Regions from separate parts of the Homo sapiens genome. Here region 2 is linked to region 1. Evidence: fine-mapped expression QTL. Tissue or cell type: whole blood. Region 1 holds a variant in brackets; the other region holds the start of a gene. All regions are shown on one strand. Distances are from middle to middle.

The links. PIP is the estimated chance that this variant, and not a neighbour inherited with it, causes the effect.
Region 2: METTL9 starts here. The variant in region 1 is fine-mapped to the expression of METTL9 in whole blood (INTERVAL, PIP above 0.99).

Annotation. Positions count from the first base shown.
Region 1 is chr16:21,658,026-21,666,202 of GRCh38, forward strand. It overlaps OTOA (otoancorin), which reads left to right and starts at 5,943. Exons shown (of 29, transcript NM_144672.4): 1 at 5,943-6,207. RefSeq lists an enhancer at 212-351. The variant C/T (reference allele first, on the strand shown) is at 4,543.
Region 2 is chr16:21,595,316-21,603,492 of GRCh38, forward strand. METTL9 (methyltransferase 9, His-X-His N1(pi)-histidine) reads left to right here and starts at 4,262. Exons shown (of 5, transcript NM_016025.5): 1 at 4,262-4,583. The coding sequence starts at 4,419. LOC101927814 (a long non-coding RNA gene) reads right to left here and starts at 4,070. Exons shown (of 3, transcript NR_110930.1): 1 at 3,341-4,070; 2 at 2,319-2,444. RefSeq lists a silencer at 4,249-4,868 and an enhancer at 4,977-5,541.

The DNA.
Region 1 (8,177 bases):
ACCTACCATGTTAGTGCAGATGCTTAAGCACCCCCAGTTACCTTATATCCAGTGCTTCCGCCGGCTAGAAGATAGTGCATGGAATCAGGGCAGCCTGGACTGAGTTGTACTGTCTAGGAGTGCACTGAGCACAAAACTGGGCTCATAAGTAACTTGAGACAAATCAGGACTATGTTGCCTAGGCTGGTCTTAAACTCCTGGCCTCAAGTGATCCTTCTACCTTGGCCTCCCAAAGTGTTGGGACTGCAGGTGTTAGCCACTGTCCCTGGCCTAGCACTCCCTTTATCTTGCAAAACTGAAACTATGTTCATAAACACAACTCTCCATTGTCTCCACCCCACCCTCTAGCAACTATCATTCTACTTTCTGTCCCTTTGACTACTCTAGGTAGTCATGATCCGCCCCATGATCCAGTCACCTCCCATATAATTGGAATTACACAGTATTTGCCTTTTTGTGACCGGCTTATTCTTCTTTTTTTTTTTTTCCTGAGACAGAGTCTCACTCTGTTGCCCAGGCTGGAGTGCAGTGATGCAATCTCAGCTCACTTCAACCTTTGCCTCCTGGGTTCAATCAATCCTGCCTTAGCCTCCTGAGTAGCTAGGATTACAGGCGTGCACCACCACTCCTGGCTAATTTTGTATTTTTAGTAGAGATGGGGTTTCGCCATGTTGGCCAGATTGGTCTCGAACTCCTGGCCTTGTGATCCGGCCTCCTAAAGTGCCAGGATTACAGGCGTGAGCCACCGCGCCCGGCCCATGACTGGCTTATTTCACTTAGCACAGTGCCCTCAGGGTTCACCGATGTAGAGGGTGTCAGAGTTTCCTTCCTCTCTTTTTTTTTTTTTTTTTTTTTTTTGAGACGGAGTCTCTTTCTGTCCCCCAGGCTGGAGTTCAGTGGTGTGATCTCGGCTCACTGCAGCCTCTGGCTGCTGGGTTCAAGCCATTCTCCTGCCTCAGCCTCCTGAGTAGCTGAGATTACAGGCGCCTGCCACCATGCTTGGCTAATTTTTGTATTTTTAGTAGAGACGGTTACACCATGTTGGCCAGGCTGGTCTCAAAACTCCTGACCTCAGGTGATCTACCTGCCTCGGCTTCCCAAAGTGCTGGGATTATAGGCGTGAGCCACCGCACCGGCCAGAATTTCCTTCCTTTTTAAGGCTGAATAATCTATTGTATGGATAGACCATAGTTTGCTTATCCATTAGTCTGTTGGTGAACTCTTGGATTGCTACTACCTTTTAGCTGTCTGAATAACCCTGCTGTGAACATGAGTATACAAGTATCTTGTGACCCTGCTTTTAATTCCTTTGGGTATATAACCAGAAGTGAAATTACTGGATCATGTGGTAATTCTATTTTTAATTATTTGAGGAACCACAATGCTGTTTTCTGCACCATTTAACATTTTTGCCAACAGTTCACAACCGTTCCAATGTCTCCACATCTTCACCAACATTATCTTGTTTTGTTTTGGGATGGAGTCTTGCTCTGTTGCCCAGGCTGGAGCGCAGGGCATGATCTCGGCTCACTGCAAACTCCATCTCTTGGGTTCAAGTGATTCTCCTGCCTCAGCCTCCCGAGTAGCTGGGATTACAGGCACCTACCATTACACTTGGCTAATTTTTATATTTTTGGTGGAGATGGGGTTTTGGGGTTTCGCCATGTTGGCCAGGCTGGTCTCGAACTCCTGACCTCAGGTGATCTGCCTGCCTTGGCCTCCCAAAGTGCTGGGATTACAGGTGTGAGCCACCATGTCCAGCCTGTTTTGTTTTTTTAGTAGTAGCCATCCTAATCGGTGTAAGGTGGTAGCTTGTGGTTTTGATTTGCATTTCCCTAATGACTAGTGCATCATTTGTTTTTATAATACAACTTGTATGGCATTTGGCTTCATTTACTAGTAAATTGTGCTTTGTAGCTTGCTATCTATATCAGTATCACTGAATTGGACTCAGTATTCAGTGATAACAAAATACTTCTTTTTCACTGTGAAATTGTATACTTTTGGAGAACAGGGAGAATATTATTACATAACCGAACTTAAGAATTCCCTCTGGATTTGGGTCAGTATGCTGTATTCACATGAATTAAATAATATGCTTTTGTTAGAAAGTCACTTTAAAATTACTTTCAATACATGTAAAATGAAAAGTAAGTATTTTTTCTCTCAAGTAAATGCCCATGTAAATTGGGATGTCTTATATACCTGTACTTCTTAAGTTCTGGAAAATAAGAACAGATAGAGTGCCCAAATGCTATTTTCTTATATCCTGTTTAGGATTCAACACAGAACGCTGGTTTTAAACGACTGTGAACTCTCAACACTTTTCCAAATGCTAGAGTTCAAGTGAATACATTGGCAATTCTTTTTTTTTTTTTTTTTTTTTTTGAGTTGGAGCCTTCCTCTGTCGCCCAGGCTGGAGTGCAGTGGTGCAATCTTGGCTCACTGCAACCTCCACCTCCCAGGTTCAAGTGATTCTCCTGCCTCAACCTCTCAAGTAGCTGGGATTATAGGCATGTGCCACTATGCCCTGCTAATTTTTCTATTTTTAGTAGAGATGGGGTTTTGCCATGTTGGTCAGGCTGGTCTCAGACTCTTGACCTCAGGTCATCCACCCGCCTCAGCCTCCCAAAGTGCTGGGATTATAGGTGTGAGCCACCTCGCCCAGCCTCCATCTTGTTTTTATTATTTATAGGGTGGCCATGACTGATCGTAAAGCCCTACTGGTTTTTCCATTATAAGTAACACGTTTGTATTAGTCCTTTCTCACACTGCTATAAAAACACACTTAAGACTGGGTAATTTATAAAGAAAAGAGGTTTAATTGGCTCATGGTTCTGCAGGCTGTATAGGCTTCTGCTTCTAGGGAGGCCTCAGGAAACTTACAATCATGGTGGAAAGTGAAGGGGAAGCCTGCATGTCTTACATGGTGGAAGGAGAACTAAGAGAGAACCAAGGAGAAGGTACCACACACTTTTAAACAACTGAGCACTCACTCACTATCACGAAAGCAGTATTGAGGGGGAAGTCAGCCCCATGATCCAATCACCTCCCACCAGACCCCTCCCCCAACACTGGGATTACAATTCCACACAAGATTTGGGTGGGGACACAAAGCCAAACCATATCAACGTTCATCGCAGAAAAAGTATAAAATGAAAATTAACTTTACTTACCCCATAAACTTGAGAGAACCACTACTGACAGTTTGGTTTATGCCTTCCAGACTTTTTTTTTTCTGTGCATGTATATATACACACATTTATAAATGTTTAAACATTAAAATATGTAAAAATGAAAAGGTCCTTTTATTGTTCTGAGATGAGTCATGTGAGACTCCTAGACACCTATATTCTAAATCAAAAATTGACAAAGGATGGAAGCCATTTCCTGTCATTTAAAGCTTGAGGTTAAGCTTTTTTTTTTTTTTTTTTTTTTTTGAGAAAGAGTCTCACTGTGTCACCCAGGCTGGAGTGGTGGCATGATCTTGGCTCACTGCAAGCTCTGCCTCCCGGGTTCATACCATTCTCCTGCCTCAGCCTTCTGAGTAGCTGGGACTACAGGCGCCCGTCACCACGCCTGGCTAATTTTTTGTATTTTTAGTAGAGACGGGGTTTCACTGTATTAGCCAGATGGTCTCGATCTCCTAACCTTGTGATCTGCCCGTCTCAGCCTCCCAAAGTGCTGGGATTGCAAGCATGAGCCACTGTGCCCGGCTGAGGTTAAGCTTTTTATTTAAAGGATTAAACAAAGACCCTGGGGATAAAAGGATGTTTTTGAGGATGCTGGACATTAGCATTATATAAATTACTATCAGATGGGCAGCAGAATGCTGCAATTGGTCATTTCTGAAGATAATGTTTTAATTGTGCCACTGACAAACTAATGTTAGCGTTGGGCATTTCAATGATTACTTTGAAATATTACGGGTATTAGATGTGTTTCGTTAAATGTGAAGGATTGCAAGGAAACTTCTTGAGTCCACAACTATTTTCATTAGGAAAGATGCAAAACAGTTATGCATAATCCTATCATGCAAAGCTAATATTTTAATGCATTGCCTACCAGATTTTTTTTAATTTTTTTTTTTGAGGCAGAGTCTCATTCTCTTGCCCAGGCTGGAGTGCAGTGGCATGATCTCAGCTCACTGCAGCCTCTGCCTCTCGGGTTCAAGGGATTCTCCTACCTTAGCCTCCTGAGTAGCTGGGATTACAGGACGTGCGCCACCATGCAAGCTCATTTTTGTATTTTTAGTAGAGATGGGGTTTTGCCCTGTTGGCCAGGCTGGTCTCAAACTCTTGACCTCAAGTGATCCACCCACCTCAGCCTCCCAAAGTGTTGGAATTAGAGGTCTGAGCCACCCCACCCAGCCTTGCCTTCTAGTTTTTTGTTTTGTTTTGCTTTGTTTTTGAGATGGAGTCTTGCTCTGTTGTCCAGGTGGGAGGGCAGTGGTGCCATCTCAGATCACTGCAACTGCCACCTCCCCAGCTCATGCAATTCTCCTGCCTCAGCCTCCCAAGTAACAGGGATTACAGGTGCCCA[C/T]GACCATGCCTGGCTAATTTTTGTAATTTTAGTAGAGACGAGGTTTCACCATGTTGGCCAGGCTGGTCTCAAACTCTTGACCTCAAGTGATCAGCCTGCCTTGGCCTCCCAAAGTGCTGGGATTACAGGTGTGAGGCTCCACACCCAGCCCCTAGCTTCTAGGTTCAATAAAAGTTCAAATACATCTATTTCTTACCATTGGCTTTTTTGTTTTGGATATAAAATTATTTCCTTGTGCTAATTATGTGGTCTTTGTTAAGAACAATTTTAATGACTGTGTAATCCACAGCGTTTATGTATCCATTTATTTAAGCATTTCATTATTGGTGGACATTTAGGATGAATTTTTTTCTACCACTCTGTGTATGTATACATCTATTATAGGTCATACTATTATTTTTATTATGGAAAATTCCAAGTACATAAAAAAGAAAGGTAATAATGAATCCTCCCCAACCAGCCTCAGCAATTATCAACACATGGCCCACCTTGTTTCATCCCTACTCCCACTACTCCTTGGTTCCACTATTGCCAAGCAAATCCCAGATGTCTCATTTCAGTTTTGTAAATATATAACTGTAAAAGATAACCACTCTGAAAAGATAGCCACATTACAATTATTCATTAAGAAACCCGGCAGGGTGCGATGGCTCACGCCTGTAATCCCAGCACTTTGGGAGGCCGAGGCCGGCGGATCACCTGAGGTCAGGAGTTTGAGACCAGCCTAGCCAACATGGAGAAACCCGGCCTCTGCTAAAAATACAAAAAAATAAGCGGGGCGTAGTGATGGGCGCTTGTAATCCTCTTTACTTGGGAGGCTGAAGCGGGAGAATCGCTTGAACCTGGGGGCGGAGGTTCCAGTGAGCCGAGATCGCGCCATTGCACTCCAGCCTGGGCGACAGAGCGAGACTGTCTCAAAAAAAAAGAAAAAAGAAATGAAAGAAACCCAGCCATTAAATATCCAGCGACCACATTGCTCCAATTTTCTTATAATTTTTTTTTTTTTTTTTTTTTTTTTGAGACGGAGTCTTGCTCTGTCGCCCAGGCTGGAGTGCAATGGCACGATCTCGGCTCACTGCAACCTCCCCCTCCCGGGTTCAAGCGATTCTCCTGCCTCAGCCTCCCAAGTAGTTGGGATTACAGGCGCCCGCCACCGCGCCTGGCTAATCTTTGTATTTTTAGTAGAGCCGGGGTTTCGCCCTGTTGGCGAGGCTAGTCTCGAACTCCTGGCCTCAAGTGATCCGCCCGCCTTGGCTTCCCAAAAGTGCTGGGATTACAGGCGTGAGCCACCGTGCCCGTCCTATAACTTCTTTTAACGGTTTGAATTCAGATCTAAATAAAGGTCCCATGTAGCGATTGGTGGATAGCTCTCTAGTGCTCCCCATCCTCGCTTCCTAGCTGCCGCCCCGAAGAGTGGCTGGGGAGCAGGCATTTGTGCGTCTTGCAAGCTTCGACAGATAGGAAGTCCCAGGCGGGGACTGTGACCCCCGCCGCTGCCCTGGCTGAGTTCCCACCTGGGCCGCTGCAGGGAGGAGGTCGCAGAGCTGCCGGCTGGCGCCGCCCCGCCGCTCTCCTGCCTGCCCGCTCCCCGCATGAGCCCCGCGGCCCCGCCCTGCGCCACCCGCCCGCCCGTGGGACTCAGTGCGGCCAAGCCGGGCTCCGCAGGTGAGGCGCGCGCGGGGGCCTGGGCGGAGGACTCACGGGGCAAAGCGCTGGGGGAGCGGGTGGGCGCCCACCGCTGGGCCTCCCTAGGGAAGGGGTGCAGGTGATGGATGGCGTGGGGGACAGACCGAGAGAAAGAGGGTGGGCAAAGTGTGGGTGCAGCGGCTTTAAGGGCTCCTGGGATTGGAGGGCACTTGGAGGGGGGGGACGATGAAACTTCGAGAAAAGGGATCCAAAACTACTTAGTAATATAATAACAGCGATGACAACTGTTGCAATAACTATCACAATGATTATTTGTTATAATAATATAGCAGCAGTAAAAACAATAGCATTAGTAATAATAGCTACGATTCATTGCATTCTTATATGTGCCAGTGCTGGGCTTAGTTCTTTATGTATTTTATGTATAAAGTAATGCCTACCTCATAACAGTTGTGTGGAAGAAATGGAAAAATGCAGGTAAAGGCCGGGGCTCACACCTGTAATCCCAGCACTTTGGGAGGCTGAGGCAGGAGAATCACTTGAGGCCAGGAGTTCGAGACCAGCCTGGCCAAAGTGGTGAAATTCCATCTCTACTAAAAATACAAATATTAGCCAGGTGTGGTGGCGGGCGCCTGTAATCTCAGCTACTCCGGAGGCTGAGGCAGGAGAATCGCATCAATCCGGCAGGTGGAGGTTGCAGTGAGCCGAGATCAGGCCACTGCCCTCCATTCTGGGCGACACAGGGAGACTCTGTCTCATGAATGAATAAATAAATAAATAAATAAATAAATAAATAAATAAACAAATAAAGTTGATAGTTTTTTGCCAGGGAGGTATGAGTGCCATGCCTACTATGCAGAGGAGGAAATGCAAGCCTATAGAGGTTAAGGAATTTGCCCAATAGCACACAGCTGGTTAAGGTTTGGTTCAGGTTAAAGCTGGGGTCTTATCCCTGGGGTGGCACCTGCCACCTGGAGTTTTAGGTTCAGGGCTGCTGAGCTGACACTGGAGAGCAAAGCCAGTGAGCGTTGGAATCATTTAGCTCTGGGTTTGCCACCTGGCTGTGCATGCATAGCTGTGTGACCTTGGGCAGGTCACTTGACCTCTCAGAACCCATTTGCTCATCTGTGAAGTAGAGATAATGGTAATGCTTGCCTCAAAGATTCTACAAGAATTAAGCGAGACAATGTATGTTAGAGAGGCGTGTACTTAGTTCTGTCTCATTAAATGACTGCTGGGATTAAGGTTACTAGGGAGCCCCACAGCCCTGCATCATAACCCCCTCCCTGCCATTCGCTTGCTGTGTGATCGTTCATGTGCACTGAACTCATCTGTGAAACTGAGTACGGTAACCCTTCAAGGCTGGTGGAAAGAGTAAATGGCAGGGAGGAGGGTTTGGTGTGATGCCCGGCTCATAGAGGATGCTCAGTGAGACCAGTTTCTTCCTTTCTTTCCTTCTTTTCCTCATTGAATCCAAAGCCATTTGTTCTCCGGAGACTTAGGAGAGAAGAAGGGGAATAGCTGTGCCTAAAATCTCACTATTAGTGGCAGGGCTGGGACAGGAACTCAAGTCTGGGCATCTCTAGTCCACCAAGCTCCCATCCCCTTGACTGCTTGAATTTTTTTTTTTTCCAGCCAGGGTTTTGCTCTGTCACCCAGGCTGGAATGTAGTGACATGTGATCGCGGCTCACTGTGGCCTCGACCTCCCAGGCTCAGGCAATTCTCCTGCCTCAACCTCCTGAGTAGCTAGGGCTACAAGCATGCACCCAGCTAATTTTTAAATTATTTGTAGAAATGGAGTCTCCCTATGTTGCCCAGGCTGGTTTTGAACTTCTGGACTCAAGTGATCCTCCCACCTTGGCCTCCCAAAGTGCTGGGGTTACAGGAGTGAGCCACAAAGCCTGGGCCTACTGGACTTCTACAACCACTGTGAGCTGGGCCATTCCAACACCAAGCATTTGTAATCAGGCTGGTATTCTATAAGCCA
Region 2 (8,177 bases), 63 kb before region 1:
AGTGGTGTGATCTCAGCTCACTGCAACTTCCACCTCTCAGGTTCAAGCAATTCTCCTGCATCAGCCTCATGAGCAGCTGGGATTGCAGGTGCAGGCCATCACCCCTGGCTAATTTTTTTTGTATTTTTAGTAGAGACCGGGTTTCACCATGTTGGCCAGGCTGGTCTCAAACTCCTGACCTTGTGATCCACCCACCTCAATCTCCCAAAGTGCTGGGATTACAGGTGTGAGCCACCGCACCTGGCCAACTACTAACATCTTCTAACCCCTGGTTCAATTCTGCTACTTGAGGCTTTTTTTTTTTTTTTTTTTTTTGAGATGGAGTTTCACTGTGTTGCCCAGCCTGGAGTACAGTGGCATGATCTCAGCTCACTGCGGCCTCTGCCTCCTGGGTTCAAGCGATTCTCCTGTGTCAGCCTCCTGAGTAGCTGGGATTACAAGCATGAGCCATGGTGCCTGGCCTAGGCTACTAATTTTTTTTTTTTCAAAGCTGTCTGCAGTTTTGCCTTGACTTAGAATTCATCAACTGGAGCCCACAGTGATATCATTGCACAGGATTGAAGTTGTATCAACTAAATTCAGATAAAGATCTCCTACGTTAATTAATTAAACAAATTGTTGAGTACATTTGCTAATTTTGTTAGAGGTGCTCATTGCTTAATAACTACAGGACACATTCTATTGAATATACTGGGAAAAAGCTGTATCTTTCTCTGAAGGTATACAAAACAATATTAAGAAGCATAAAAAATATCTGTCCATAAAAACATGATTATGGCCAGGTGCAGTGGCTCACGCCTGTAATCCTAGCACTTTGGGAGGCTGCAGCAGGCGGATCACGAGGTCAGGAGTTTGAGACCAGCCTGGCCAACATGGTGAAACCCCATCTCTACTAAAAATACAAAAAATAGCCAGGCGTGGTGGCAGGTGCCTATAATCCCAGCTACTCAGGAGGCTGAGGCAGGAGAATTGCTTGAACCCGAGAGGCAGAGGTTGCAGCAAGCCGAGATCGTGCCACTGCACTCCAGCCTGGGCAACAGAGCAAGACTCCATCTCGGGAAAAAAAAAGTGATTATATGAGTTATTTTTATTTTTATTTTTTGATACAGGGTCACCCAAGCTGGAGTGCAGTGGCACAATCTCAGTTCACTGCAGCCTCAGCCTCCCAGGCTCAGGTGATCCTCCCACCTCAGCCTCCTGAGTAGATGGGTCTACAGGTGCATGTCACCACGCCTGTCTTATTTTTGTATTTTTTGTAGACACGGGGTTTCTCCATGTTGCCCAGGCTGGCCTTGAACTCCTGGGCTCAAGCCATCCACCTGCCTTGGCTTCCCAAAGTGCTGGGATTACAAGCATGAGCCACCCTGCCTGGTCTATATGAGTTCTTTTTAAATCATTATCTCTTCAAGGAGATAACAATCATCAATAGGTTTTGTACAGATCCAAACTCTCTGCTTGTGGATTCTCTTAACATGATACTTTGTAATTGAAAAGAGAATATGAAAATGCCAAGCTTTGTAACTTCAAAGAACAACAATAACAAAAAGCCTTTGCCTAGAGATCTAGATAGGAAAGTGATCCCGCCAAAATTTTGGGCCTGTGTACAGGGCTGTGACCCAAGTGGGACACCTGGGGTCAATGAGCAGAGTTCGGTGCAGAGGGTCATTTGTGTATCTTTTGAATATTACTAACTGCATCTCAAGATCATGTTAGAACGAGTATTGGCTATTTGGCTTTTTGTGTCATCTTGCCCCTTCCCGTCTCCATTATGGAGAATTGAGGTTTTAATATACGGTAGTGACATTCTAGTAGATGAAGGAAGGGGGCTGTCCCCAGTGGGCAATCTGAACTTCTGCTTCGTATATTTACTCTTGCTGTTTTCGTTTCTCCTCATTTGTAATTCAGGAGGCTCTCTGAGAAGAGACAGCAAAGCTTCTTAGATGGATCGAAAGACCACGAGCTGGGATACCAAGTTCTATGAAAAGGTCAGCTATTGAATTTACTCTGCTACCTTCAGGCAAATCATTTGATCATCGGATGCTCTGGTTTCTTCCTGTGCCTGCTAAATGTAAATAGCATGGGTTTGAGTGTTTGGTGGTTATTATAGAGTATTTTAAATGTATGAGTGATTTATTTTTCTAGGCCAGCTGCTCAGATATAAAACAAAATCTGCTCCTTTGAGCTGTTAGGCTTCGTGGCAGTCAACTGACCCCAAAATCCTTCTGACTACAGCAGCCATCTACTTGCTTGTTCATCTGATAACATTTTGCAGTCTCTCAGCTACAGCTATGTGGTCTCACTCTATAGCTGGGGCATACCTTTTTGTCTCCTTTGTCTTCAGAAAGGAAATATGCCATTTTATGCACTCCTGCTGCTTTCACCCCCACTTTAAAAAGATGAAGGCTTCCTTTTGTGACAGAGTTGCTTTGTCTGTTACACTGATCCTAAGAGACAGGAAGGAGAGGTGTCATAGTAAATAAACAGTTATTGGACTTGCTACCATAGTTCCTTTTTGATGACTTGGGCCAGGACCACTAGAGGTTTGAACTAGATTTAGTAAGGCTTGGGCTTTTCGGGGTTTTGGCAGGAAGCAGTCAGGGAGTATATTGGAAAGAGAGAACACAAAATACCGAACCCCACCCACCCTGTGCCTTTTTGTTTGTTGTTACAGCCTGTTACATTAGGCAACAAGATATCCTTGTTAGCCAAAGGTGCCAAGCTGAGATTCTTAAAAGCTAATGAAAGAGCTGTTGGGCCAGGTGCGGTGGCTCACGCCTGTAATCCCAGCACTTTGGGAGGCCGAGGCAGGCGGATCACGAGGTCAAGAGATGGAGACCATCCTGGCCAACATGGTGAAATCCCGTCTCTACGAAAAACACAAAAATTAGCTGGGCATGGTGGCGCGCACCCGTAGTCCCAGCTGCTCGGGAGGCTGAGGCAGAAGAATTGCTTGAACCCGGGAGGCGGAGTTTGAAGTGAGCCGAGATCGAGCCACTGCACTCCAGCCTGGAGACAGAGCGAGACTCCACTCCGTTTCAAAAAAAAAAAAAAAAAAAAGCTGTTGGGTAAGGAATGATTTTGTTCCCCATCTGTGGCTCACCACCCCACTGTTTCATAAATGAAAATCTCTGATGTGCAACGCTGAATTAACCAAAAGGCTTACTTCTTTTGTTTTGAACTTAGACACATTTACATTATTTCTGGTGCAGTTAAATTAAAAGCACTTTCCAAACAAACCTAGGAAAGTATTAAAGTTAGGGACTCCCACGAAATGTTACTCCTTAATTGTGGCTTGGATAATAGCAGGAAGAACTGCAGACAGGAACACAGTGTAACTAACCCTTCAGTTCTGAAATGTTGCTAGGTCTCCTCGTGTTATAAATGATCAAATAAATATCCGGGTTAAACACTGCTCCCAGAGCTGAGTTCACTCTTAAGAGTGTTGGGTCCAACTTCCCTGTGCTAATTCAAGGAAACAAGGCAGCCAAGGAGTCTAACTTGAGGTCTTCATTCTTGGGCAGGGCCATCAATACATCTAAAACATTACTTGTGGGTACCCCAGCTGCGGTAGCTTCCCCAAAAGGCAGAATTTTCACTCATTCTTTATAGAAACACGTAGCCAGCAACTTCTCAGGCTTGGGGAACGGGGCAGGCGGGTCGTGGTGGTGGGGAGAGTAGAGGAGGGAGTCTGGCAGGTCGGTTCTAAATGTAAACTGGAAACTACGCATCCGAGCGGGCAACCATCACTGGCACCATTCGTCTCCGGGAAGAACCTGTGTGTGTCAGGATGCACGAAAGGAATGACTCCCCTCTTTGCGCCCCCGGGGTTAACTGCACGACCCTGTCAAAGTCCCGCCGTGGAGTGGGATGAGGGTCGAGAGGTAACCCTGTCAAAGTCCCGCCGTGGAGTGGGATGAGGCGAGGAAAGACTGGAGGTCCTTCCAGCACCACCTTGGAGGGGCAGGGAGGCTGCAGTTACCGCCTTCGGAAGTGATCTCCTCAGCCCTCAAAAAAATTAAAACCACCTCCGCCATTTACTAGAGGCCAAGGCAGGGCCGGGACACGAGAACGCGCTCCGGGCGGATGCGCGCTCCCTTTGTCCCGCCTCCCAGCGGCCCGCTCATTGGACGGAGGGAGGGCGCCGGGGGAGAAAGCGACGCGGCCGCTCGTAAGTGCTCCGGATGGAAACTGGTGCAGGGGGCAGCGGCGTTCCGCGGCCGGAAGGGAAGGGGGAGGTGCCGAGGCTGCGCGCCGGCTGCTCCTCCCCACCCCCAGCCTTTGCCCTGAAGGGGGCTGGATGGGCAAGGCGGCCGCGATGGCTCGAGCTCGGGCGGTGGCGGCGGTGGCCGGAGGCGGCGGTGCCTCCTCCTCCTCGCCCCGGCGCCGGCGGTGATCCGAGCGAGCGGCCGCGGCCCCCGATGAGACTGCTGGCGGGCTGGCTGTGCCTGAGCCTGGCGTCCGTGTGGCTGGCGCGGAGGATGTGGACGCTGCGGAGCCCGCTCACCCGCTCCCTGTACGTGAACATGACTAGCGGCCCGGGTGGGCCGGCGGCGGCCGCGGGCGGCAGGAAGGAGAACCACCAGGTACGGGCTGGGGCCGGGGCCGGGGCGGGGGCGTGGCGGCCCGGCCTTCCCGCGCTGGGCCCGGCTATTGTGCGGGACGGCTCCGCGAGGGGGCGGCCCGGCCCTCGCCCCTCCGCCTCGGCCCCTTGGAAAGTTTTCCCCGCGCCTTCCCCGCCGGGCGTCGACTCCGCGAGCCCCGGGCACCCGGCCGCGGCCCCGCGAGCGCCTTTTGTTCCGCAGCGCAGGCGGGGCATGGCCTCCCGGGCCCGATCGTGAGCGGCCCGGAGCCCCGCATTGTTCCTGGGTCCCGGGCGGTGACTGCGGACGCCCGGCAGCGGGACTGGGGAACTTTGGGGCCAGAGCGTGGCTGGGGGCGCCCGCCTGGCACCGAGGCCTGAGACTGAAGAGACCCGGCCAGATCCATTACCCCGAGAAACAAAACGAAAAGCCAGCCCCTCTTGTTGTCTCGTTGAATCCCAGAACGTACAAAGGGTCGTGAAGAAATGTAACTGTACATCGCAAGCCATTGAACTCTCCAGGCTGATTGGGGTGACATTTCTCCCTAAGCACTTAAAAAATGGGTTTGACAGGTTGTCGCTCCCATCCTACGGAACCTTCCCCTCCTACCTAGCAGAGATCTCCTTTAAACTTGGATTTAGTCAGCCTGCTAGAAAGATTGTGTGTGATGAGGAGGAAGATTATGCAAGTTTTACAGGAAGGGTTTTTAAAACAGAACGGGACGGGAGGGAGTTTTAGTTATGCATCGTGAGCGTTACGCTGTGACCGGGTAGGTAGGCTTTTCATTAGCTCAGTCTTGCGCCACTTAAACGTGTACAGGTTAACTGTAGAATTAAGTGAGATATTTCGTATATGACCTTAACATAGTTTGCAGTTAATGTTAAATTCATTGAAAAGAGGCTTTTGAACTCTGCCAGAGTGTTGGCTTGTCATAGCTAGCATTTATAATACATTTTGCTTTTCCATAGAGTATTAATTATTCCCTATATCATCTTGTGTCTCATCATTTTCATATATTTCTCATTTTCCTACATTACTTTTTTATTATGCCAGGTGTTCAGAGAATTTACACCCAGGTTGATTTCATGTGTTTTAATGAGGGTAGAGAATTGTCTAAGAAGGAGATAGAGCAATTTAGAAAAGTAGCATTTAGTCTTTAGTAATATGTATATTGGGCTTTTTTCTATTGTTAAAGGAATCCTAAATTTCTGTAAATTTTTTTGAAAGCCTCCAGCCATTGCAGTTTGTTAGGTGCAATATCAGTATCATTGATCACTTGTATGATATGGTTAGGAATGTATGTAAACTTAAATTGCAAAACCACATTTATTCCTATGGATTATTTGCTTACACTAGTTCATTCTTATAGAGACAACTCAAAGGTACTGTACCGTTGACTGTACAGTTACCAGAATGTCACATATGGAACAATGGGGTAGACAATGAATTAGAAATGTCATTTTTAACATTTTTAAGCAGTTGATAGAAATAAGGTCCTGGATAGGAGAAAAAGCGATTTATCTCCATTGATGGGGGATTATGGTTGAGTCTCTTAGCTATTGGTATTTATAACACTTATCATGATTACCCCTACTGCAGCCACTTGGTAGGTTTTTAGTGCTCATAAAAGAATTGCACTTATTTTAAAATTGAAACACTATTTCAACACTGTGATGTGTATGGAGGCGGAATTGCAGCTGTAGACATAGCCTCAGAATATCTCCCAGCAGAGGATACTTTCTGACTGTACCTTTTAAAAGCTGAATCTGTTAAGTTCTAATGAAAACTAATACTGGTTTCAGATACGTTTATTTCAGATACCGTATTTATATTCTGTGTGTGTGTGTGTGTGTGTGTGTGTGTGTGTACCCCTTCACTAACAATTCAGCAGATAATTTCTTTAGGGTGAAGACTTAATATGGTGTTTTCTGAATATTTGGGGGATGGGTCAACTCTTTTCCTTAGAATAATGAATCCAGACATTATTTTGACATGAATACATTCATATTATGAAAATAATCGTGCATGAATAAAGATTAAAAGGAACAGAAGAAAGGTGTGTAGAAACCACCATGAGATAAAGTAGGAAACTGTCCTTTCTGCACTGTGGCTGGAGTTGATAATTTGTTTTCCACTTAATATTCCAGGATCCTGGGTTTGCCTTATAACTTCGTTGCTTGTGAAGTAACTGTAACTGTTTTTCCTCCTTCAGATTAATAGTTTTATACAAGGTCTTCTAAGTGTTCAGTTGGGTGTGTGAGTTCCATAGCCAGCCACATCTGGGCCTTTTGGAGTTGCATAAAAGTAGGGTTGTGGATTTGATTGAACCATACTTAGCAAAAGTGTTCCTTCTGGTTATTTTATTAAGGAATTATGATGGAGGATTCTGTGGTTAAAAGAGAGATCTTGGGCAATGTTTATTCGTTAAAAATGGCTATTTTGTTAGTATAGTTTGGAGAGGCAAGGCTCCTTTGGGCTAAAGCTGCTCTAAAACTGTAGTAGCAGTGCCATTTTAGTAACTTGGTTTGGTGTGCTAGCTTCAAAACTGGGATTATGTTTCACTTTGGGCAAGCAAGAAGCAGGGTTTCACTTAGAGCAGGGAAGTGGCTGGGAGGCCAGACTGGTCTCACAGACTTATTTTACAGCCTATGAAATAAGAATAGTTTTATATTTTTAAATGGTTACCAAGAAAATATCAAAATAACATTTTGTAATACATGAAGTTTCATTTATGGAATTCAAATTTATTTCAGTGTCTACAAATAAAGTGTTTTTTTTTTGAGATGGAGTCTCGCTTCGTCACCCAGGCTGGAGCGCAGTGGCCCAATTTTGGTTCACTGCAACCTCTGCCTCCCAGGTTCAAGCAATTCTGATGTCTCAGCCTCCCGAGTAGCTGGGATTACAGGTGAACACCACCACGCCCAGATAATTTTTGTAGTTTTCAGTAGAGATGGGGTTTCACTATGTTGGTTAGGCTGGTCTCAAACTCCTGACCTCAAGTGATCCTTCTTCCTGGGCCTCCCAAAGTGCTGGGATTACAGGCGTGAGGTACTACACCCAGCCCACAAATAAAGTTTTATTGAAAGAGAACTACCACATTCATTTACCTGTGGTCTATGAGCTCCCTGGCTACAATAGCAGCATATTTGCTACTGTATGGCCTGCAAGCCTAAAACATTTACTACGTGGCTTCTTACAGAATAAAGACTTTTTCCAAGAGAAATTCCCAGCTTCCTTAACAAACAGCTTTTTTTTTTTTTTGGAGACAGGGTCTCACTGTGTCACCCAGGCTGGAGTGTAGTGGCACAATCTCAGCTCACTGCATCCTCGACCTCCTGGGTTCAAGCGGTTCTCATGCCTCAGCCTCTCCATAGCTGGGATTACAGGCACGTGCCAGCACACCTGGTTAATTTTTGTAGTTTTAGTAGAGACAGGGCTTCACCATGTTGGCCAGGCTGGTCTTGAACTCCTGGCCTCAAGTGATCTTCCCACATCGGCTTCCCAAAGTGCTGGAATTACAGGAGTGAGCCACTGCAACCAGCCTCCAACAGCATATTCTTAATCACAGGTTGCAGGGTGGGTAGATTGACTCACTGG